Homo sapiens: one gene and its partners. The protein of the gene in region 1 purifies or fractionates together with the protein of each later gene. This does not show direct contact. Each region holds a gene or a part of one and is shown on either strand. Other genes may lie near its edges.

Region 1 (3,500 bases):
CGGAATTAACAATATTTTCTACCTCAGAGAGTCGTTGCAAGCATTAAATAAACTGATCTGCTTAGCACGTAAGCAGTACCCAATAAATAGGAACAAAGGCCTATTGTCTCTTGCTGTTAGCCCAACCCCAGTGCCCATGTGTGATAAATGAATGAAATGACCGAATTGAGTGACAGCCTGGCAGCATCTGGAAGCGAAGGTGCCTGGGTGACGGGGGATGGAGGTGAGGGTTGAGAAGAGCTGTAAAGGAAGCGGGGCAGTTTTGCACCCCACGTTGTGCAGCTGCAGTTTCCTAAACAGCCGGTGATCCACGCTGTGGTCGAGACCCGGCCGCCACACCCCGCAAAAAGTCCACTTGGTGAGAGCTGAGAACGAGGGTTCCAGTCTTTATTATGCGGGCGTTCAGTTTCTAGCTCCCGGGCCGTGGTCCGCGTCCAGCTTCCAGAGCCGCCGCGGGATACCAGCCGCCACTGGCTCGGCGTTCCACTAGCACCGGCGCCCCGCCCAGCCCCGGGTCCGGAGGCGGGGCCGCGGAGCGTCCGGCGCAGGCGCAGGCCGGTATGGGACGGGGCGGGGCTCAGAGGAAGGGGTTGGTGCCGGTCTGCGGGGGCGGGGGCCGCGGCCCGGCTGAGCTCGGCGTGGGCAGCAGCGGCTGCGGTGCGAAGGCTCCGGCCTGCGGGAAGACGCTAACCGAGGCGGGGAGGGTCAAGCCAGCTGGCACGCTGCTGAGCGGGAGGGGCAGAGAGGCGCTGTAGGTCATGGAGCCCAGGGGCGCCCCCACAGGCCCGCCTGCCAGGCCCAGCGCCGGCGAGCCGGTGCGCATCTGGTTTAGCGTCGGCCTGCCCGGCTCGCCCGCGCCGAACGGGTTGGTGGGGGACGGAGCGCTGAGACCTGCAGAACGAGAGTGGCTTTGAGTGACCCGGGGTTCAGAGCCCTACACCGGGAGGTCGTGGAAGTTGGGAAGAAGAGTGGGCTCCTCCGGCGGAGGCTAGGCTCTGAAAGCAGGAGCCCCTGGGTTGAGGGACAAGGGCATATCTTACCTGTCAGGAAGGGGTTCCGGGTCTTTGCAACCTGGGGTGCCTTGACCAACGAGTCAAGGTTGACCAAGGAGGAAGCTGAGGGACCCAGGAAGGACTCGGGAGTCCGGCAAGCTCGGGCCTCTTTGCTTGGCTGGGTTAGTGCTTCCCCTAGTATGCCCAGGTCCAGGGCATCTGGCTCCTTCGTGCCATTTTGCTTGGAACTGGGGCTGGGGTCTCCAAACAGGTCCAGCTCTGGAATAGAAATGCTAGAGCTAATTGGTGGGGAAAGGGATTGGCGCCCGACGTGGGAGGAAGAGGACAGAGGCTGCTCGGGGTGGGCCCCTCATTCCCCAGAGCCTCACCATCCCCTTGCCCTGCTCACCCACAGGGCTGCTGGGCTTCCCAGAGGGCAGGGCCTGCTCCAGCCCCTCCTTGGTCTCTGTGGATTCTGGAGGTTTGGCAAATGGGTCAAAGGTCGAGGCACCACCTCGGAAGAGAGAGAGGAAGAGGAGATGGGTTGACAAAAAGGGCAGGTGTTGGTCTGACCCCTTTCCAGAGAAGCTGTCCTCCTAACACAAACAGTATCTGCTGCCCCTTGGCCCTGCCTGGAAGTCCCCCAGCTCCTCACTCACACTCTCTGGCCCTCTTCTTACCAGGTGTGTCGGAGGTCTCCAGGGAGGCTCCCCAAGGGTCAGCCCCAGTGCTGGGGAGTTTGTGGTGGGGAGAGTTCAGGGCCCAGGGGTCTGTGGTGGGGGGCCCAGCAGGCAGCACTGGGGTCCTGCCCCAGGGCTCAGAGGAGGAGAGCATGGGAGTCAGATCCCAGGGCTGGCTTCGGGACAGGACGGTTCCTGAGGGGATCGGAGACCAGGGGTCTGCAGAAGGCCCCCAGGAGGATCCACTGGCCTCTGTGTTCGGCCTAAAACCTGAAATGGGAACAGCATAGACATGATCCCAGGCCCACCCTTATCCCTCGCCCAGGGCCCTTCCCAGTTACCCAGCCCAAGTTGGGAGGCAGAAGATCCATGTCACAGATGGCCTGCAGCCTCAGGACCACCCAGCAGGCTGGAGCCCCTATTTGACAAGTGACCCCAGGAACTGGGACCTGCAGGTGTGGGCGACTCAGGCCACCTTCCCAGGCGTGCTGAGCAAGTGAGTGCAGCGAGAGAACATTTTGCTGCGTTTCCTAGGAGCTGGGCCCTTCAGACATTCTCCATAGCCCTCACTACGAAAGCCTGTCCCACAGGCGGCGGAGGCTCAAGGTGGTGAGTGACTTGCCCGGTGACACTCAGATTTTGGGAGGAGGTGCTTGGCCCAGCAAGTGGCTGGGAAGGAGGAGGCTCTTGGGCCAGCCTGGAAGTCTCTTGCAGCCCTGCATGCCCACCTGGGATGTCCCATGGGTCAGCAGAGCAGTGTGTGGAGGGCGGGGCCAGGGCAGGTACGAAGATGTCAGCCAAGTCCAGGATGGAGGACTGTGGAGGGGAGAGGCAGCCGCGGCTCAGAAGTGGGCGGGGCCTGGAGGGAGGGCAGGCCCTGACCTGTCAGGCTAATGCCAGTTCATTCTCTTTATTCATTCCACAGATACCTATTCATGATCCCTCACCTCTGCACAGTGCTTTACAGTTTATAATGTTTCTTCATCCACAGAGTACCTGATTTTCATAACAACCCTGTGAGGTAGGTAGGGCAGATGATGTACCCATTTTATGGATGAGCCAGCCAGCGCACAGAGGGTGGAATGGGTTTGCCTGAAGTCACACAGCCAGGGAGAGGCAGAGCTGGGATAGAATCCAGGCCAGCAGAAAGGGGCAGGAAGGCCAAAGGCAGATGTTTTTCAACCAGCCTACCTCCCTAGGTCAGTGTCCAAGAGAAACTGGCCACAGTGAACATGGACGGAAAGGAGACCACAGCACCCGGGCGTGGCATGGACAGCTTTGGAGGGCAGCCTTGCACTCAGCAGCTGCCCACTCCCCATGCGGAGAAAATATGTCCATGAGCCCGAGGTGTTTTCAGCACCATGTGCTTAGGCCAACCCTAGTCTTGATTGACAGTATCACATAATCCTAGCATGTCAGAGCTGGAACTATCCAATAAGCACACTGTGCAGAAGGGGAAACTGAGGCCATGACAGTGACATGCCCCAAGTCATAGAGTAAGTGGCAGCAAATCCAGAACCCGAATCCGGGGGTCTCCAATCAGGAACCTTTTGCATCCCACTTTGCTGTTAACTCAGTCACCAGCCCATGCAATGTGGGACTAGGGCTGCTACACCCCCACCCCTATTTCATCGAATAAACACATCAGTGCTTACTATATGCCAGGCACTGCTCTGCTCTCTCTTTACAAATACTCAGTCCATCTCTTAGGCCCTGTCCATCCCAAGCACCGCAGCCCACTCCCTACCTGGCTGGTTTTTAGCTTCTCCTCCTCCTTTCTCTCTTCTCTCTCAGGCTCTCTGTCCCGCTGATGGTGGACCACGGCCCC
Region 2 (3,500 bases), on another chromosome or scaffold:
AATAGGAGTTATAGCTGCTGCTTTACCAATGAGAGGTTTAGCCTCCTTCCATTCTTCCTGCTTTCAAGTCAGGAATCACTGAGACCCAATCACAGAATTAGCCCTGCTTCCCAGCAGCATCCAACACAGAGCAAAGCCCCACTTCTCTGAACTGTCTCTCAAATCACCCAACACAAGCCCACAGCCCTTCTCTGAGATGTCCCACAGTTCTTCCCCACCCCAATGCAACAAGGAAATAAACCCAACTTTGCTTGACTACAGGTATGCTCCTCGTGCTTTTTGGCTGCAGGGCACTGACAGCACATAACTTGTTTGAACTATTCCCTGAAACTGAAAAAGAATTGTCTAGCTTTTCCAGATTTTCTATAATGAATGGGTACTACAACTATAACTGGTAAAACACAAACGTTATTTTTGTAAATGGGACTGGGAGTAAAGGGAGGCAGCTTGCAACAGCAGAAGCAACGCGACAGTCATGGACAATATTCAATTCAAGGTTATCCAACTCTTCTGGCCAACTCTCCCCAACTCCATGGCACCCAACAGTGGCCTGGATATCACCTGCCATGTCAGGGCCCTGCAGAGTGAAACAGAGAAAGAACGGCCTCCTGGAAAGAAATGTTTTCTCAAGAAACAGTTCCTTTTTCATCAAGAAAAGTCACAAGAAAATATGTTTTCAAAAGCTCAGGCTTAGCTCACCTGGGGTCTTTGCTGCCCGATGCCAAACACAAAAGAGGTCCAGAAGAAGCAGTTACCCCTCCTTTCTAGCTGTCCTCTGAAATCAGTCCCCAGAGACCTCACACTAACAGTTATGACCAGCCACCTCCCTCAGAAAAATCCTTTGTCCATGGGATGACAGGAGTAGCTTATGGAAATAAAAGTTTCCAAAAACTGTGAAGACCTCGAAGGGGGGGAGAAAAGGCTTACGGTCATGGGTGAGGGTGTGTGTTGAGGAAATTTGCCCCAAAATGCAAATACTTTTTAAGCACCCCTTTCAGATCTAATTTTATATAATAAATGCTTGTTATGGGAAACGATCTAGCATTTTGGAAGGTGCCTATCATGAAACAGACAAAAAAGTACATAAAGTATACTTCATGTAAAGTCAAAGCACAGTAAATATGTGATATGAAGGATTTTTTTCTAATGGCATACTTGTATAGGACACTTACCATGAATGGAGTGTGTAGGCCTGGAAATTGCTCTGGGTGAGCGAGTGGTGAGTAAATGTGAAGGTCTAGGACATTACTGTACACTACTGTAGCTTTATCAACACTGCACAGGGAGGCCACACTACATTTATTTAAAATATTTTTTCTTTCCATAATAAATTAACCTTTGCTTACTGTAACTTTTTACTTTAAAAACTTTTTAATTTTTTTTTAACTTTTGGACCCTTTTGTAATAACATAGCTTAAAACACATATTGCACAGCTGTACAAAAATATTTTCTTTCTTTATATCCTTATTCTATAAGCTTTTTTCTCTTTTTTTACTTTTTAAACTTTTTTATCCAAAACTACAAAATACACACACATTAGCCTAGCCTACACAGGGTCAGGATTATCAGTATCACTGTCCTCCACATCCTGTCCCACTAGAAGGTCTTCAGGGACAGTAACACGCATGGAACTGTCATCTCCCGTAAGAATCCCTTCTTCTGGGATACCTCCAGAAGCACCTGCCTGAGGCTGTTTTACAGTTTTCACTTAAAAAAAAAAAGGCAGGTAGGAGTATATTCTAAAATAACCATTAATAGTAAATACATTAACCAGTGATATATCTATCAAGTTCATTACTATTATCGACTATTATGTACTGTACATAATTGTGTGTGCTAGACTTATACAACTGGCAGCAAAGTAGTTCTGTTTACACCAGCATCACCACGAACACGTAATATGTTGTGCTACCACTGAAATGACAGCTACACTATCACTGGGCTACAGGAATTTTTCAGTTCCATTATAATCTTAAGGGACTGTTATATACGCAGTCTGTCACTAACCAAACTGTCATTATGTGCGCATGACTGTACCTTTTTTGGCTTTCCAATACCTTTTTAAAGATAATTTGCACATAATGAAGTATACTTTAAGTGTACAGTTTGATGTGTTTTGGTCAATACTTGCACCTGTGTAGCCCCCACTCCAATCAAGCTGTCTTGGAACATTTCCATGCCTCCAGAAAGCCCCTCGGTGTCCCTTGACCACTGCATTTCTACCACATGCCTTTTACAAATTCAAACAATGCTGGAAGACAGCTATAGTTATTTCCATTTTGTGGATTTGGATGCCACAGCCCCATCAGGGTCAGTCACTCTCAAGCTGGAGTTGAGTCAGTGACGGGGCCAGTGAAGGACATGGGCAAGTGGTGGCTGGCCCAGAGACCATCACACCTAGTAGATTGAGAGCTATGATACATAAGCTGAGAAAGGCCAGCCTCACCTCCCTTCTTTAAAAAGTACAAAAAGCCCTGAAAATAGTCGCGAGGTAAAGTGTGGCTAAGGGTTTGGAGTTAGACCTGTGCATAAGGCCCCAGCCCTACCACTTAGTAGCTGTGTCCAGGGCCAAAAGCCTCACCTCCCTCACAGGGCTCCCTAGCTCTGAGTAAACACTCCAAACACTCAAATTATGATGATTTGAGAATGCTCCCGAAGTCTCAAACTATCTTCTCTTTGGAAACTGTTTCCAGCTCTAATGGCAGACGGCATGACTAAGAGATAAAGGCAGGAGCCATCCTGATCTAGAATGAGACTACAGATTAGGCAACAAAAGCTCTAAACCTTTTCAGAGCTCACCCTCTCCAAAGGTCAGTCAACCTAATAGTAGGCAAGGCCCTTGGGGGAAAAGTTTTGGCAGCATTCGTGTCCTTGAGCCCAAGTTACAGTGAACTTAGGACACGAGGCAGTGGACCAGAGACCCCCACCATAGCAAACCTCTCTAGGGAGGACTCTCCCCACTGTTGCTACTGGAATCCTGCTTTTTTTTTTTTTTTTGAGACTGAGTTTTGCTCTTATTGCCCAGGCTACAGTACAACGGCACGATCTCAGCTCACCGCAACGTCTGCCTCCCAGGTTCAAGCAATTCTCCTGCCTCACCCTCCCGAGTAGCTGGGATTACAGGCATGCACCACCACACCTGGCTAATTTTATATTGTTAGTAGAGATGGGGTTTCACCATGTTGGTCAGGCTGGTCTCAAACTCCTGACCTCAGGTGATCCTTCTGCCTCGGCATCCCAAAGTGCTCGGATTACAGGTGTGAGCCACCGCGACTGGCTAATTTTGTATTTTTAGTACAGACGGGATTTCTCCACATTGGTCAGGCTGGTCTCGAACTCCCGACCTCAAGTGATCCATCTGCCTCGGCCTCCCAAAGTGCTGAGATTACAGGCATGAACCACCGTGCCTGGCCAGGATCCTGCTTTTTGACTTGTTTCAAAGGTTTGATTTCATTACCAATGAAGCTGGGGAGGTGAAGCAGGAGACAGCAAAATTGGT
Region 3 (3,500 bases), on another chromosome or scaffold:
ACTGTTTCACTCTTGTCGCCCAGGCTGGAGTGCAATGGCGCAATCTCAGTTCACTGTAACCTCTGCCTCCTGGGTTCAAGTGATTCTCCTACCTCAGCCTCCCGAGTAGCTGGGATTACAGGCACGCACCACCATACCCAGCTAATTTTTGTATTTTTAGTAGAGATGAGGTTTCACCACATTGGCCAAGCTTGTCTTAAACTTCTGACCTCAGGTGATCTGCCCACCTCGGCCTCCCAAAGTGCTGGGATTACAAGCATGAGTCACCATGCCCAGCCCAGTATACAACTTTAGAGAAGTCACTTTACCCCTCTGAGCCCAAATTCCCGCACTAAAAAAATGCAATAATTATGGGACAAACCAGAGAATGTTCGTGAAATACTCTGTAAATGATAAAACATTAACTCAAAATATTTCTCATTTCAGAAAATTGAAAAGCAAATGTTTTGACAGCCATTTAAAAACAACAGGCAAATACAACCATATTCCTCCGTGTTTTTCCCTCTGCCAATATTTACTTAAGATACCTGCCAGTTTGCTGAGATGATGCTGTCTTACACTGAGCAAAGAGATTCAAACCTGTGCTGTCCTCTGAAGATAGAAAACAAGAGCAGGTACCTCACTGAATTGCCAAATATTCCACATATTGAGGCTGAAAAGCCAACAAGCAGTCTTCCTACAGCCCTCTGTCACCTCAGACTTAACGGGGGGGGTAAACTGGCATCTCCCTGCCCCTGCACACGTTTCTGTTTAAAGTGCTGTCTTAATTTTTTTCCAAAGTTCTCAATTTAGGAAGCACCAAATTTACTCCCATAGACATCAAAAGAGAATGGAGGCTGGGCCCGGTGGCCCACGCCTGTAATCCCAGCACTTCCAGGAGGCCAAGGTGGGCAGATTACTTGAGGTCAGGAGTTTGAGACCAGCCTGGCCAACATGGTGAAACCCCGTCTCTACTAAAGATACAAAAATTAGCCAGGCGTGGTGGTGGGTGTCTGTAATCCCAGCTACCCAGGAGGCTGAGGCAAGAGAATTGCTTGAACCCAGGAGGCAGAGGTTGCAGTGAGCTGAGATCATGCCACTGCAGTCTAGCCTAGGTGACAGAGCAAAACTCTGTCTCAAAACAAAAAAAGAAAGAGAGAGAGAGAGAATGGAGAGGGTGCCATCAAGGCACAAGAAACCTACACCCACCCTCATCACATGAAAACACCTCTTCCCAACCCAGCATCTGTCCTATCTCTAAAACACACTCCTCTCATGGGTAAAGAGCCTTAAAAAGCAACTTGCAACCATTTTTCTTAAAGACGTTTCCTTAAAGAAGTTTCTTTTTGGAGATGTGGTATAAATCATGGCTCCTAATCCTTCCTTTCGCTTTCTAAACAACACTCACTGTTTTTCCTTTCCCACAGAACCTAACGTTTAAATCCATGAACCAGTTTTTACCCTTGAAAATGCAACCAGGAAGTGAAATATAAAGCATGGGATTCTGCCAAAACTTGCCAAGCTGGGAAAACCTTTCTTAACCTTCAATGAGGGGGTTCAGAATTTCTATTTTAGTATATATGTAAGCTGCTAGTTTCCCAGAAATTCTTTGTGGGACTATTACCCCCAGGTTTGAAATAAAGTTTCTGGGACTGCTGTTCCCAGCAACATCTCAATAAGAAGGATGACAAATAAGGCTGGGCATGGTGGCTCATGCCTGTAATCCCAGCACTTTAGGAAGCCAAGGCGGGTGGACAGCCTGAGGTCAGGAGTTCAAGACCAGCCTGACCAACATGTGAAACCCCGTCTCTACTAAATTACCCGGGCATGGTGGTGGGCGCCTGTAACACCAGCTACAAGGGAAGCGGAGGTTGCAGTGAGCCGAGATCACACCACTGCACTCCAGCCTGGGCAACAAGAATGAAACTCCATCTAAAAAAAAAAAAAAAACGTCCAGGCACGGTGGCTCACACCTGTAATCCTAGCACTCTGGGAGGCCAAGGCAGGCGGATTGCCTGAGGTTAGGAGTTCAAGGCCAGCTTGGCTAACATGGTGAAACCCCATCTGTACTAAAAATACAAAAAAATAGCCAGGCATGGTGGCGCATGCCTGTAGTCCCAGCTACTCAGGAGGCTGAGGTGGAAGAATCGCTTGAACCCGGGAAGCAGAGGTGCAGTGAGCCGAGATGCCGCCACTGCACTCCAGCCTGGGTGACACAGCAAGACTCAGTCTCAAAAAAAAAAAAAAAGGAAGATGATATATAAGTGAATCAATAGGTTTGACATTCTACAAGATAAATTTCACTGCCATGAAGTTCAACATTTATCTAGGGAGGAAAATATAGAAGACAGGACAGACTCCTTCCTAGGGGTGGCCCAGAAGACTGTCGGTTGGGTGAGGTCATAATTAAGGGCAGCCTCCTGGGCTGTCCAGTATTCACTGGCTTTCCTAAGGGCCTTCTAGGCCTGGTGTCTACAAAATCCCCAACTGAACATCTGTCACATTTGGTTCATCCTTCACTCTCCAACTCCCTTTGATTTCAGACTAAAAAATGGGTTGCTGAATACAAAACACACACCCTTGATACTTGGCATTATCTCCAGAGGTAACCTTCTGAAGGACTCATGCCTGGTCCCCACTCCCTGCCTCGGAGGACCAGGTTCTTAACTGCCCACTCCCAGCCTCCTGGAGCCCTAAGCCCTGCCTGGGCTCCCTGCTCCTCCCTGCTGCCCAGGGGGGCATGGATACAGGTGCTTGTGCTCTATGGTGTCTTGGAGTGGGGCATGGTGGTGGCAACTCCTAGCATATGAGGTAAATGCACTGATATTCACATTTAAAACATTATATTCTACAATATAGAAATAACTATAAAATTTATGCTAATAATTTAAACTTAATTTTTCTTTATGTAGAATTACATTAAATAGAAAAAAAAATTTTTTTTTTGAGACAGAGTTTTACTCTTGTTGCCTAGGCTGGAGTGCAATGGTGCAATCTTGGCTCACCGCAACCTTCACCTCCTGGGTTCAAGCGTTCCTCCTGGCTCAGCCTCCCAAGTAGCTGGGATTACAGGCACTCGCCACCATGCCCATAAATAGCAATTTTATTTTTTTTTAAATGACAAGTCAAGGGAAAAACTACAGAAGAACAAAATTTTACATTTTAGGATCTCTAAAGATGCTTTTTTTTTTTTTTTTTGAGACAGAGTCTCATTCTGTCGCCCAGGCTGGAGTGCAGTGGCGTGAGCTCAGTTCACGGCAACCTCCGCTTCCCAAGCTCAAGTGATCCTCCCACCTCAGCCTCCCTAATAGCTGGGACTATGGCCATGCACCATCACACCCGGCTAAGTTTTGTATTTTTTGTAAAGATAGGGTTTTACCATGTTGCCCAGGCTAGTCTCAAATTCCTGAGCCCAAGCAATCCTCCTGCTTTGGCCATTCAAAGTGCTGGGATTACTGGGTGTGAACCACCACGCCCGGCCTAAAGATATTCAGTTGGTGCAAAAGTAATTGCAGTTTTTA
Region 4 (3,500 bases), on another chromosome or scaffold:
GCATCCTTGGCCCTGGCAGCATCTGGCCAGATGCACTTGATTCTGACTTGTGCCCAACACCCAACAGAAGCTGGGCCCTGGAGGGCGCCGCACAGTCCAGGGGATGGCGTGGGCCAAGGCCCCCAAGAGCCCGGGCACCTTCCAGAGCAGCTGCTGTGGCACCCAGGCCAGGCCACCTCTCCCCACCAGCCAGGAAGACCCCAAGGGAGGGGAGAGGAGGGGATCCACAACCCCCCACGACCAAGAATGACGCCATGGGGGATGACATCATGGGCGAGACATCACAGAGGATGATGTCAGAGGGGTGACATCGTGGGAAATTGACATCACATGGGGAATGACATCATGGGGGAGACATCACGGGAATGATATCACGGGATGATGTCACATGAATGACATCACAGGGGGGACATCATGGGAGACTGGCATCACATGGGGGGATGACATCACCGGGGGATGACATCACAGGGGCATGACATTGCAGGGGAATTGCATCATGGGGGGTGACATCACGGAATGACATCACAGAGATGACATCACACTGGCATCATGAGGGAATGACATCACAGGGGATGACATTACGGGGATGACATCAAAGGGAGTATTGACATTACAGGGGATGACATTGTGGGAAATTGACATCATGGGGGACTGACATCATGGGGGGATGGCATCATGGGGGGAATGACACCATGGGGATGACATTAAAAGAGGTATTGACATCACAGAGGTGATACCACAGGGGATGACATCATGTGGTGACAGCACGGGAATGACGTCACATGTATGACATCACAGGGGAATGATGTCATGGGGGAATGACATCACGGGGGAATGACATCACAGGGCCTCCTGGGCCCTCCTAGGGCAGATGTGGGCTTGAAGCCACAGTGCTGGGCTCAGACGCCAGCCCACAGATCCCCAGTAATATGACCTTGGGCTCCCCTCTTGGGGCCTCAGTTTCCTCATGTGCACAGGTGATGAGTATAGGACCAGCTTCATTCTGTGCTGATGAGGTGGGATGGGACAGGGTGGCACTGCCCCACACCCAACAGGCAGACAGGAAATATCACCACCTTGGGCAGCCATGGCAGAGCCCCTGGGGCTGCCAACCCCAGGAGCCAGACCCCAGGCCCCTCTGCAGATGCTGATACACACAGGTGGCCCAGAAATGGCCATTTGCACCTGCATCCTCAGGACAGCACCCAGCCCTCCCCCCTGCTGGCTACAGGCAGCTCACGTGACCCCCATGCAGACCCAGGGTCTCCACCTGAGCTACTTCTTCCCTGGGGTTAAAGGGGAGCTAGATGGGCGGAACAGGCTCAAGGAGCCCTGACCCCATCCCCTGGCTGAGGGCCCCCACGATTTCCTGGTGGTCCCAAGGTCTCTATGGTCAGCTGACCTTGTAGGACCCCTTTCACACCTGGACTGCATGGTTCTCTCAGACCCTGGGGACCTCCTGTTTGCCACTGGAGGATGGCACAGTGCCCAGGCCCATGGGAGCAGTGCCCTCGCTCACCCAGGGGTCAGGGACCCACAGGCCCTTGACAGAGGTCGTCAGAGCCAAAATGCAGCCAAAGGGCTTCCCTGTGGCACAAACCCCAAAAGCGCTGCTCAGCCAGTTGGAGGTCCCCCTTCCTCTGCCATCTGCATGCAGGCAAGGCCTCACCAGGGCCAGTGGTGCTTCAGGGCACACCCCATGCACCCCGCGTGCTCGGCCCCTAACCTCCCGAATCAAACATGGGTCTGAGAGGGACTGGCACGTTGTCCAAGGCCGCACAGCTGTTAAGCATGAAGCCAGGACTCGAACCCTCCACCCAGGCTGGATTTGAAGTCCCTCACCTGCTACTGCTGTCAGACCTCAAACGGTGGCCAATCAATCCCCAGAGTCGGGCCCACATTCAGAACAAGGCTGCTTAGATCTAAAAGTAACTCAAATGATAACCACCACAGAAAACAAAAATTCCAACTAGCCAGAGATTCCAGAACATCTTCCTTGCTCCTGTGTTTTAGATACCTAAGCAGACGTATTTACAAAGATGTTTTCTGCCACTTTCCTCACCTCAAAGAACGAGTCAGCTGCAGTCCTGTACTGCTGCCCAGGAGACTGGGGAAGAGGGGCCCGAAGCTCCTTGGACATGTGGATGGTGACTCCACCCCCCCAGGACTGCACACTGTTGGCCTGGTTGGGGGTGTGGGGCTCGGGCAGAGAGGAGCCATCTCTGCTTCCTGGGCTGTTATCAATGGACTGTCAACATGTGGCATAGAGACATGGGCGCTACAGGCGGGAGGGCCACGGCACACACCAACCCACCCACAGAACAGAGTGGACACACCCTGGTCAGATGGGGCAGGAGGGGATCCTTGTAGCAAGGAGAGAACAAAGTCTCAAAGTGGGGGCGCTGCCTCTGCCGGGCCCAAGAGGTGGGCAGGGGCAGGGAGAGGACACCTCAGGCAGGAGAGCATGGGAATGGCAGGGCACTGTGCAGGGCCGAGTTAGAGGGAGCGGCTGGACCACATCTGTGAGAGGCCCCTGCCCGGCACTTACACCCGAGTGAGCCCGTTTTTGCCTTAAGAATGCCCCATGAGGGGTGGGAACAATGCGCAGTCCCTTCCTCCAGGTGCCAGCACCAAGGCCCAGGGCCTCATCTGACAGCAGCAGGAAGGGTCAGGGCCAGGTCTGTCTTACGCAGCATCACACTGGGCCTCGTCTGAAGGGCCAAAATGGAGGGAGAGAAGTCAGGGATGAGGCTGCGGCTGCAACGTCCCGGGCACCGCTGAGGCTGTCTCTTCCCAGAGGAGGTGCCCCATGGGCAGAGGTGCCAACAGGCCACACTGCCCTCGGGCCGCAGAGCAGGGAGCCGGCAGGAACGACCTGACCACCTGCGCGGCCTGGTCAGGCCAGAAGCTCCTGCACAGGTGTAACTGCTGCCCCACCAGCCCTCCTGCCACCCACCTGAGACTCCAGAAGGTGGCTGCACACCTTGTCAGGCCAGTCCCCCAGAACATATCTAACACCCACACAGAGAACATAAAAGCTGAGTCTTGCTGTACTGGCTGCAGCCCCAACCTGACGTGAGGCAGGACTCGGCGGTGGCGGAAACCTTTTGCATGAGGGCCTCAGTCTGACACCCAAGCAGGTTTCCCAGCCTGTGAGGCATCATCGTACGGGCACAGGCCCATGGGTCAGCTGGCCCTGCAGGCCCAAAGGCTCAGACCTGGGGCACCACCCGAGGCTTCCCTGCCAGCACTGGTGGCATCTGGTATCTGGATGACAAGCTCTCGAGTTACTGAGGACCCAGCCAATTCCAGAGGCCCATGGAGTTGTCCCCCACAGCCCCAGTGCCAGGGAGAACACACAAAGCTCAGCATGGCCACTCCCCTCTTCTCACCAGAGTCAGGGACTGTCTAAGTCAGCCCCCAGCTTGGCTGGTGCCCACCCTGAGCCATGTGTTCTGCTGGGGTCAGGAAAAGCGTTCTAGCAGGAACAGAGGGTGGAA
Region 5 (3,165 bases), on another chromosome or scaffold:
GTTAGACTCCATCTGTAAAAAAAAAAAAAAAAAAAATTAAACTAGCAAGGAATGGTGGAGTGTGTCTGCAGCCCAGCTACTTGGGAGGCTGAGGTGGAAGGATCACTTGAGCCCAGGAGTTCAAGCCTGTGGTGAGCCATGATTGTACCACTGTACCCCAGCCTCGGCAATAGAGCAAGACTCCATCTCTTTAAAAAAAATTACATGTTTGTAAGCGTTTAAGGTGATCTTACTGTACCAGATGTTCAAAATAGTACTGTTATCTAGCTTATAGGGCTGTTACGATGACTAAAGGAAATAATTCTGTAAAGAACTGAAGTTCAGTGCCTGGCACACTAGGAAGTACTCATGAAGTGGTATTGATGAGTTAGTATTACTAATAATTGAAGGTGTTGCTGACAATGTTGAGAGTTACTCAATGTAATTTTGCAATGTAAGACATTATAATTATGTCAGATTTTACAGGCTTTTAGTTCCATATGTATTATTATTATTATTATTATTATTATTTGAGAAGGAGTCTCGCTCTGTCACCCAGGATGGAGTGCCGGGTCACCTGCAGCTTCCTTCTCCCAGGTTCAAACGATTCTCCTGCCTCAGTTTCTCTAGTAGCTGGGATTACAGGTGCCTGCTATCATGCCCAGCTAACTGTTATATTTTTAGTAAAGACAGGGATTTGCCATGTTGGCCAGGCTGGTCTGAAACTCCTGACCTCAGGTAATCCACCTGGCTCAGCCTCCCAAAGTGCTGGGATTGCAGTGTGAGCCACCACACCCAGCCTCAGTTCCATATGTATTTAATGTCAGTTTTTATTCATTTACAAAATGGAGTAAGATGGGTCAATATTTCTTAACTATTATGACCAAACTGGACTTGTTAATTATTCTAGTTAGGAAACTGCATTCGAATCCTGTCCCATCCCTCTGCTACCAGTATTCTGTTAGAGTAGCCTACTTCCTTCACAGCTCTTGTTACAATTTGTAATTATTTATTTATTCCTTTCTTGCATTATCAGTGTCCTCCATTAGACTGTATGCACAATGCAGGTAGAAACTGTCTTGTTGACCATTACTTCCGCAGTGCCAAGCCTAGTACCTAAATATGATAAGCCCTTAGTAAGTATTTGTTGAATTGATAATTGTCGTAGTTTGAGATGCTGGGCTTCAGTCCTAATGGCTGAGATGTCTGCGTTCATGAAAAAGATGTACAAATATTTGGACTCGTATAGCACTAAAATTATCATTACAACAAAAGTGGGTATTTAGGTTAAATTCTTTTACAAAACCAATTCTTAGGTTCCTCTTAAGTTCAAATCTGCTCTAGAAAGCTTTTTGGTAAGCAAACAGATGACATTTCCAAGGATATCTAATTTGTTTTCCTTTTTATAAGCAAAACTGGATGTTCCAGGTTACACTTAAAAAAAATTATAACCCTTCAGAATATGAACACATGGGATTAATTATATTTTATTTTTGGCTTCTTTCTCTCAGATTCACAGTTAATAGAAGGATCTCTATAGTTGGATTTGGCTTGTATGGATCTATTCATGGCCCTACAGATTATCAAGTGAATATACAGGTACAGTTTCCTCCCCCACCATATATCATTTTGAAATAACACAAACAGGTAACTTTAAGATATTGTTTTGACAGAATCCAAATTTCAATATAATTGTCAAAGCAATCAGAAGGCCCCTTAGTAGCATTGTAAGCATAAAGAGTTCTGTTTTAGAGTTGATCTAAAAAGTCTGGTTGCAGAAAATTGGGGTCCTTCACAAAAGCAGTAGCATATAAGGAGCTCTTCTTTGTCCAGGAATCCCTTCTATTAGTACTTCCTGCTGTGCAGTCTTAAAACATCCTCCTGCCTTTTTCATGGCCCTTTCAACTCTAGGACTGAAACTAAATTTCTTGTAACTGGTGTGAGCATCCTGTGACTTCCAAGGGGCTGAGCAGACCCTGCTTTATTCTTGGTTACTTTTTTTTGAGACAGGGTCTCACTTGGTCGCCCAGGCTGAAGAGCAGTGGTGCGATCACAGCTCACTTCAGCCTTAATCACCCAGGCTCAAGCAATCCTCCCACCTCAGCCTCCCAAGTAGCTAGGACCACAGGTATGTGCCACCATGCCCAACTAATTTTTCTTTCTTTTTTTTTTTGTCTCGCTGTGTTGCCCAGGGTGGTCTTGAACTCCAGGGCTCAAGTGATCTTCCTGCCTTGGCCTCCCAAGGCATTGGGATTACAGGCATTAGGCCCCTGCTTCTTTTTTTTTTTTTTTTTTTTTTTTTTTGAGATGGAGTCTTGCTCTGTTGCCCAGGCTGGAGTGCAGTGGCGCGATCTTGGCTCATTGCAAGCTCCGCCTCCCGGGTTCACACAATTCTCCTGCCTCGGCCTCCTAGCACTTTGGGAGGCCAAGGAAGGTGGATCACGAGGTCAGGAGTTTGAGACCAGCCTGGCCAACATGGTGAAACCCTGTCTCTACTAAAAATACAAAAAAATTAGCTGGGCATGGTGGTGCATGCCTGTAATCCCAGCTACTCGGGAGGCTGAGATAGGAGAATTGCTTGAACTGGGACCTGGGAGGCAGATGTTGCAGTGAGCCAAGGTCATGCCACTGCCTTCCAGCCAGGGCTACAGAGTGAGACTCCGTCTCAAAAAAAAAAAAAAAAAGACACCAGGCTTCTTGTGTACAAACTGTGGGAGGGCATCAGGATTATAGGTACATTAAAATTATGAAGTATAAATACTGTGAGTAAAATAATAGAAACAGTCTGGGCGCAGTGGCTCAGATCTATAATCCCAGTACTTTGGGAGGCCGATGTGGAAGGATTGCTTGAGCCCAGGAGTTCCAGACCAGCCTGGGCAACAGAACACGATCCCATCTCTACAAAAAAAATGAAAAATTAGGGCTGGGCGCAGTGGCTCACACCAGCACTTTGGGAGGCTGAGGTGGGCAGATCGCTTGAGACCAAGAGTTGGAGATCAGCCTGGCCAACATGATGAAACCCTGTCTCTACTAAAAATACAAAAAAATTAGCCAGGTGTGGTCGCGCACATCTGTAATCCCAGCTACTCAGGAGGCTGAGGCACGAAAATTGCTTCAGCTTGGGAAGTGGAGGTTTCAGTGAGCCGAGACCCCAACACTGCACCCCAGGCTAGGCAACAGAGTGAG
Region 6 (3,500 bases), on another chromosome or scaffold:
TTTATGGTTTAATACTTTGTGGGTGATTCAGAAAGTAGAGTAGATGAAGTTTCATTTAGAATTGTTAGTATTCGTTATTTACAAAAAGTAATGAAGTGAATTCACTATGACTGAATTTATGATTAATTCTGTTATGGGCAAGTGTGATTTTGGGCCTCATGCAAGAGGGCTGGGACTAGCCATTGAGGACTCCTGGACAAAGAGCTTTTGAGTCAGGTATATGTTTCCAATTCCCAGGCTTTATCTCTAACTAGCCTAGCAACCTTGGACAAATATTTTGATACTTAGTCTATTAAAATGTAAAGTGACAGACAGTAGTACCAATCTTATCAGATTGTTATAGGAATTTGAAGTAATAAATGTGAAATGCAAGGGTTAGTGGCATTATCAGTACTTACAGTGCAGAATAAATAACTAGTTAGATTGCTACCAAGTTAATTTAGTAGGAGGCAAGTTGCATGAAGTATAACTGTGGGTATGCAAATTTCTTTAGTCCTTTGCTGAAACCAGATTGTACATGACTCTGTTCTTGGGACACTATGGGTATGGGATAAAAAACAAATCAAAACAGAAAAGGCTTTCAAATGATTATGCTCATCATGTGTAATTTTAAGTGTGTTAGTTTTCATGAAGTTATATTCGAGACTGGTTTTGGGGCCAGAAGTTTAAAAAAAAATTGGTGGGGATGAGGGTCTAATTCCTTTGCCCAGAAATTCCAGGTTACTAACCTTTCCCCAAAATGCTGATTAAAATTGAAACTGATAATATGATTTTAAGCAGACCTTTGTGATTTTCTAAGTAGCACATAATTTTAATTATTTGGAATACAATTGGTGAATAAGTGGTGAATATAAAAGATTGCAAGTTATAAGCTGTCCTCATTTGGAATGAATTTGATGGCCTCCAAAACAGTGAATCTGCAATGTATGAATCCTTGGATCCTTCAATTTACCATTGAGTGGATTTGCTTTGATTTTGGACCAAGTCAGTTTTCTGTGACTGGGGTAATCTGTGTATTTTTTATTTTTCTTAAGAGTCTATTAAGAAACGCATTTAGGAGCATTTGCAGTGTTTTCTTAAAGTGACTCATTTGTTAATCAGATAAATGGGCGTAGGAACTGCTTATAAACACCTAGACTGTCCATAACCTGTGAAATTAGTTAGTAGTCAACTTCTATGTGTTCCCTAAAGTACCCCTTACTGTAGTTTACATTTAAATGTCTTTAATAAATGAATTGTTTTACTGTCTTTCCTTCAGTTAGCCAATGAAAGAATACTTTTCCTTACAAATTGTAAAGTTGTATGTGGGAAGAAGTGGAGATAAACTTTTTTTTTTTTTTTTTCCGAGACGGAGTCTCGCTTTGTCGCCCATGCTGGAGTGCAGTGGCGCGATCTCAGCTCACTGCCAGCTCCACCTCCTGAGTTCACGCCATTGTCCTGCCTCAGCCTCCTGAGTAAGCTGGGACTACAGGTGCCCGCCACCACGCCTGGCTAATTTTTCGTAGTTTTAGTAGAGACGGGGTTTCACCGTGTTAGCCAGGATGGTCTCCATCTGCTGACCTCGTGATCTGCCCGCCTCGGCCTCCCAAAGTGCTGGGATTACAGGCGTGAGCCACCGCGCCTAGCCGAGATAAACTTTTAATTGTGATTGGAAAGCATGTTTTGATAATGATAGAAAATTTATTTTGGAGACTAAGGCACTTTTTATGGAACAGTGCATACACGGCTTCTGCTGTTACTGACACTGAGACTGATACTGCTAAATGATTTAAGTGGGCAGTTTAGTGACATCTGTGTGTCAACACCAGTGTATTCTGAAAGTGCTCTGTTGTAACCATAAAATGCCTGCAGATCGTACAGAAGAATCAAGTCTCCGTTTTGTACAGAACATTTAACTGAGTTTTAGAGTGTGATTCTGTTTATCACACATAAGTTTCAATAAACATTTACTGGGTGTGTGCTAGGTGCTAAGAACAATGCTTTTAGGTGGTCCTCTCTGGCTTTAAGAAAAAACAACATCTACTTTTTTAATACAAAATCCATTTCTGAAACTGAGTTTGAAAAGTGAATTTACAGATAATCCATTTATCAAGATATGTAAAATATTATGAGCCATTGTTGCCTCAGGTGCCTGGATGGACTTGCAAAGTTGAGAGATCTGTGAGACTTCTGACACTACTCTGTATAAGCCTTGGTAGTCACAGTCACCCTGGCCTGCAATCCAGTGCTATTTAATAGCCCACTTAGAAGATGGGAATGGGAAGTAGGATGTATTTTGAGGTTTGTTATGCTGCAGTGAGCATAATAAAAAAAAGTAAGCAACTTCCACGTTTTTGATAATTCCAGGCTGCTAATTTAGGTAATGGCAGACAATAGATGGATGATACAGTGTATACATGCACAGCCTGGGAAACATCCCTTAGCCATTTTGGCTGGGGTTTGGCCTGTGTTTCCTGGTGATAGTGCATGGTAACTAGTGCCACTATTCAGTCACCTTGTTTAGTTTAAGTATGAAAGGTAAAAATAAATTTAGGGATTTCATATAATGCCAGAAAATAAATGTGGAGTGAAAGTAGAGGTTTGCTAGGCTGGGTGAGATAACATTGTAGTTCAAGGTGATATCTTAAAATGAAAATACTCAGAGAAGGGCTGGACTGAACAAGTACTATATTGCTTTGTTTGCCATATCAGTTTACATAAATTATTGGTTTGTTGTCCCAGTCTATTATACTGTACTTTGGTAAAGATCCTCCCTTGGTAATATACAAGCTTGATCAAATGACAACCTCAGAACAGTGATGTATTTGGCTGAATGATTTTTGAATGAATGAAGTCAGCAGTTGCAGATAGCCCAAGACTGCCTATAAAGAAGGTGTTAAATGAGTAATTTACAGTGAAATTACTATGAGCTTAAAAAGAGATAATACAGGATTGGATATTTAGAAAAACTATTACAGGGAAGGTAAAACCTGAGTGGTATCAAGAAAGATGGACGGATCTTGAATTATTGGACATGAAGAGAGTGATCTAGCTGAATAAAGATACCAAAATGGTAGTAAGCATGAATTTTTTGGGGATATGAAGAAGTTTTGTCCTATTAGAGGGGAAAACCAGCATTTGTACTGGAGAGATGAGATGGAACCTGAAGGTAATTTTGAATGTTATACTGAGAAGTTGAGACTTGGTGTGATGGGCTAATTGTTGATTCTTCAGCAGAGATTAGCTTATTGGAAAGTAGTGTTTTAAGATGCATTATATGGCGGATAACAAGTTGTTTATTGTTATTGAGAGCTGCTTGTATAATCTTAACTCTGAATTGAAAGTAGCAACGTTTAAAAATATTAACTGTAATAAATATATTGGTACAGCTATAACTATAAAACATCTTGTAAATCATTAGCCAGTGTATTAAAACAAGTTAACTAATACTGAAATTTCAAATCATGTTCTCACTTATAATACCAGATGATTTTTAATTGCAGATTTAGTACCTCAAGACA
Region 7 (2,552 bases), on another chromosome or scaffold:
TAGCTCCTGACTGATGTGTCTTTCTGGCTGTACCATCCTCTTCTGGAAGTCATCGGCCCCACTGCACAATAAAGTCATTGCCCCTAGTGCCAGATGGGACAGAGACAACAAGGACTACATTTTCTCTTTGGAGTTGGCCAAAGTGAACCAACACTTCTCCACTTCCCAAACACCTCTGCGTCCCTCCATCCCAATTCCTTCATCATGGGCTGCAGGAAGAGGCACCAGGTGCTACTACATGATGGGGGAAAACACTTGGATCTCCCAGACGCCAGTGTGTCCCGCAGAATTCTGTAATGATGGATGTGTTCCGTATCTGTGCTGCTGACTCATCAGCCATGACCACACTGGCTGTACCACGTGGCATTTGTAATGCAAGTATTATATTCATTTTTTCTTGGTCACTAATTGGCTTATTCTTCTAAGTTCTTTGCTAAACTACTATCTTTTCATTGTTATTTTCATCAAACTCCACGGGAGGGAGAAATAAGAGACCCAGATAGGCTTGGTTTCTTGCTTTATTAGGTTTATTATAAGGAGCAGTGATGAGATCTTTATCAGTCCTCACTACAAAGCTTTCATCTCCAGCCTTCTCCATAGCTCTGTGGAGGGCAGAGAGTTGAGGGAAGGAAGAATGGAGCTTGGGAGCATGGGATCATGTATGTATACCAGGAAAGAAAACACACATTCTTTATTCTATTGCTTCAAAGACAGTTTGTGAGAATGGAAGATAACAAGCACAGCTGGCCAGGAAGGCAGGGCACACATGGCAGGTCAAGTTCCTGCTATCCAGGGAGGTGGCCCAGAGCTTCCCTGCTGCTCCTGGAGGAAGCAGAGTCCAAGCTGGCCCAGATGAGGCCCCGGGCAGCACTGCTTCTGTGTGGGTATGGCCAGTCGGGACGTGGCGCCACACACTGCTCCTCCGAACTCTGGTGAAGGGCTGCCCAGCCTCACAGGCCTGAGCAGAGTCTCCCACATCTGCGAATGGGGCCAATGGCACTCACTGTCTCTTCAGGCCCCCACGGACGGCATGCCTGGGGAAGCCTAGTCTACTTACCATCAGCACGTTGATCTGTCACACAGCATGGAGCCATAGTTTACAAAGGACCACGGCAGGTCAAGGACAGGCCACTAAAACTGTTGGTGCTGGGCACCATCACCCACCCTCACCACCATCAAAGACACTGGTGCAGTGAGACTTCGAGTCTGCAAAAACCCCGGGGAGGACAGGAGGCAGGGCCACTCTCCCTGTGTGTCATCAGCCTGCAGTGCCTGAAACTCCAGCCTGTGCACCTCTGGCAGGATGCCCCACACTGCTCCACAGGTTTGGCGGTGAGTTATTTTTAAACCAGCGTCCTGCTGTTCTTGCCCCCCGCGTCCCCTCTGCTGTGCCTAAACACCTCTCAGGAACACTTGGCAGCACGCCATTGTCAGTTCCAGGTCCACTCATCCCCTGCGTGTTGCCGGGACCCACCTTCCTGCGCTATCCCAGCACAACTCTCCAACCACACCATTGCTGAACAAAGCTGGGGAGTGACGGCCAGGGCAGGCTGTAAGGCAAGTGAATGGAAACTGGCTGGAAAAAGAGAAAGGGCCCAGAGCACAAAATCGCCACGCACAAAGACTAAGCCAGCCTGCCTGAGTGTCTGGTGAGCGAAGACGGAGCAGGCACCTCTGTGGGAACATGTATCTAGGGATCACGCATACCCCAGACAGGGCAGGCCCATCCTCAGGAGCTGCAGTCACACTCAGCCCGGCCTGAGGCAAGGGATGCAGGGCCTTGCCTAGGCAGAGAATGATGCTCTCCGAGGCATCTAGGCATGGAGTGTATGGCCAAAGAGGGTCTATTTACAACATACCTGACAATCAACTAGCACTGTATTCCTAGAACTGAGACCCCTTGCTTCTCATCTTACCTTGCTTAAATATTAGTTATTCCCAGAGTCAGGGAAGTGGGAGAGAAAGCCTGGGTAGGGCAGTGAGGGAAGTGATAAATGGTGAGAAAGAAAAGGAGACTGAAAACTAACAGGGCGGCTACCGAGGGGTGCAGGGCACAGTTACCATGGAGACGTAAAACACTACACAGAATGCGAGCCATCGGGTCCATGCGGCCAGAAGCTTGAGTGCTGTTCTCTCATGGAACTCTCCAGTGAGCCATGCTGAGCGGTCCTTGTGAAGTCATGTACTTAATAGAAAAGCCCTTGATGAACAACCCCATGGTTACAAACACTTGTGACAAGTTTCCTTGTTCAGGTGACTGGTGTGCAAAGGCAAGATGGTGCACATCCTCCTGACCAAGCAGGTACTGAATTCTCTGGAATTGCCCACAACATAATGGTATAAGGTATAACTAATCTCTTTTCCCATTAAAAAGCTGGCAATGCCAGACCATGAGTCTAATTAATTCAGAGTTGTTCCAGGGCACAAGATAGCCAGTAATGTCCAAATGGGGAGCCTTGTGGTGGTGGCAGCCAGGATTCCTAAGGCCAGGTGCTCCTTCACCTCTCTGGGAGAGCCAAGCTGTCCATCCGCTGGATCCCCAGGATGCTGGG

What was found.
Region 2: the proteins of EPN3 (region 1) and KCTD10 purify together in Homo sapiens (affinity purification with mass spectrometry; 3 studies listed by BioGRID and IntAct, with this or other methods). This does not show direct contact.
Region 3: the proteins of EPN3 (region 1) and PLEKHA7 purify together in Homo sapiens (co-immunoprecipitation; one large-scale study listed by IntAct). This does not show direct contact.
Region 4: the proteins of EPN3 (region 1) and ZFTRAF1 purify together in Homo sapiens (affinity purification with mass spectrometry; 3 studies listed by BioGRID and IntAct, with this or other methods). This does not show direct contact.
Region 5: the proteins of EPN3 (region 1) and BTBD1 purify together in Homo sapiens (affinity purification with mass spectrometry; 3 studies listed by BioGRID and IntAct, with this or other methods). This does not show direct contact.
Region 6: the proteins of EPN3 (region 1) and KCTD3 purify together in Homo sapiens (affinity purification with mass spectrometry; 3 studies listed by BioGRID and IntAct, with this or other methods). This does not show direct contact.
Region 7: the proteins of EPN3 (region 1) and VPS39 purify together in Homo sapiens (affinity purification with mass spectrometry; 3 studies listed by BioGRID and IntAct, with this or other methods). This does not show direct contact.

The regions. Positions count from the first base shown.
Region 1 is NC_000017.11:50,539,235-50,542,734, reverse strand, and holds part of EPN3 (epsin-3), read right to left. Parts: coding exon 3,420-3,500; intron 2,489-3,419; coding exon 2,401-2,488; intron 1,943-2,400; coding exon 1,673-1,942; intron 1,507-1,672; coding exon 1,402-1,506; intron 1,272-1,401; coding exon 1,041-1,271; intron 892-1,040; coding exon 578-891; 3' UTR 1-577.
Region 2 is NC_000012.12:109,470,801-109,474,300, forward strand, and holds part of KCTD10 (BTB/POZ domain-containing adapter for CUL3-mediated RhoA degradation protein 3), read right to left. Parts: intron 1-3,500. UniProt on the Homo sapiens protein: Substrate-specific adapter of a BCR (BTB-CUL3-RBX1) E3 ubiquitin-protein ligase complex. The BCR(BACURD3) E3 ubiquitin ligase complex mediates the ubiquitination of target proteins, leading to their degradation by the proteasome.
Region 3 is NC_000011.10:17,004,415-17,007,914, forward strand, and holds part of PLEKHA7 (pleckstrin homology domain-containing family A member 7), read right to left. Parts: intron 1-3,500. UniProt on the Homo sapiens protein: Required for zonula adherens biogenesis and maintenance. Acts via its interaction with CAMSAP3, which anchors microtubules at their minus-ends to zonula adherens, leading to the recruitment of KIFC3 kinesin to the junctional site.
Region 4 is NC_000008.11:144,456,372-144,459,871, forward strand, and holds part of ZFTRAF1 (zinc finger TRAF-type-containing protein 1), read right to left. Parts: intron 1-3,500.
Region 5 is NC_000015.10:83,019,088-83,022,252, reverse strand, and holds part of BTBD1 (BTB/POZ domain-containing protein 1), read left to right. Parts: intron 1-1,490; coding exon 1,491-1,578; intron 1,579-3,165.
Region 6 is NC_000001.11:215,570,304-215,573,803, forward strand, and holds part of KCTD3 (BTB/POZ domain-containing protein KCTD3), read left to right. Parts: intron 1-3,482; coding exon 3,483-3,500. UniProt on the Homo sapiens protein: Accessory subunit of potassium/sodium hyperpolarization-activated cyclic nucleotide-gated channel 3 (HCN3) up-regulating its cell-surface expression and current density without affecting its voltage dependence and kinetics.
Region 7 is NC_000015.10:42,158,201-42,160,752, forward strand, and holds the end of VPS39 (vam6/Vps39-like protein), read right to left. Parts: 3' UTR 501-2,552; downstream 1-500. UniProt on the Homo sapiens protein: Regulator of TGF-beta/activin signaling, inhibiting SMAD3- and activating SMAD2-dependent transcription.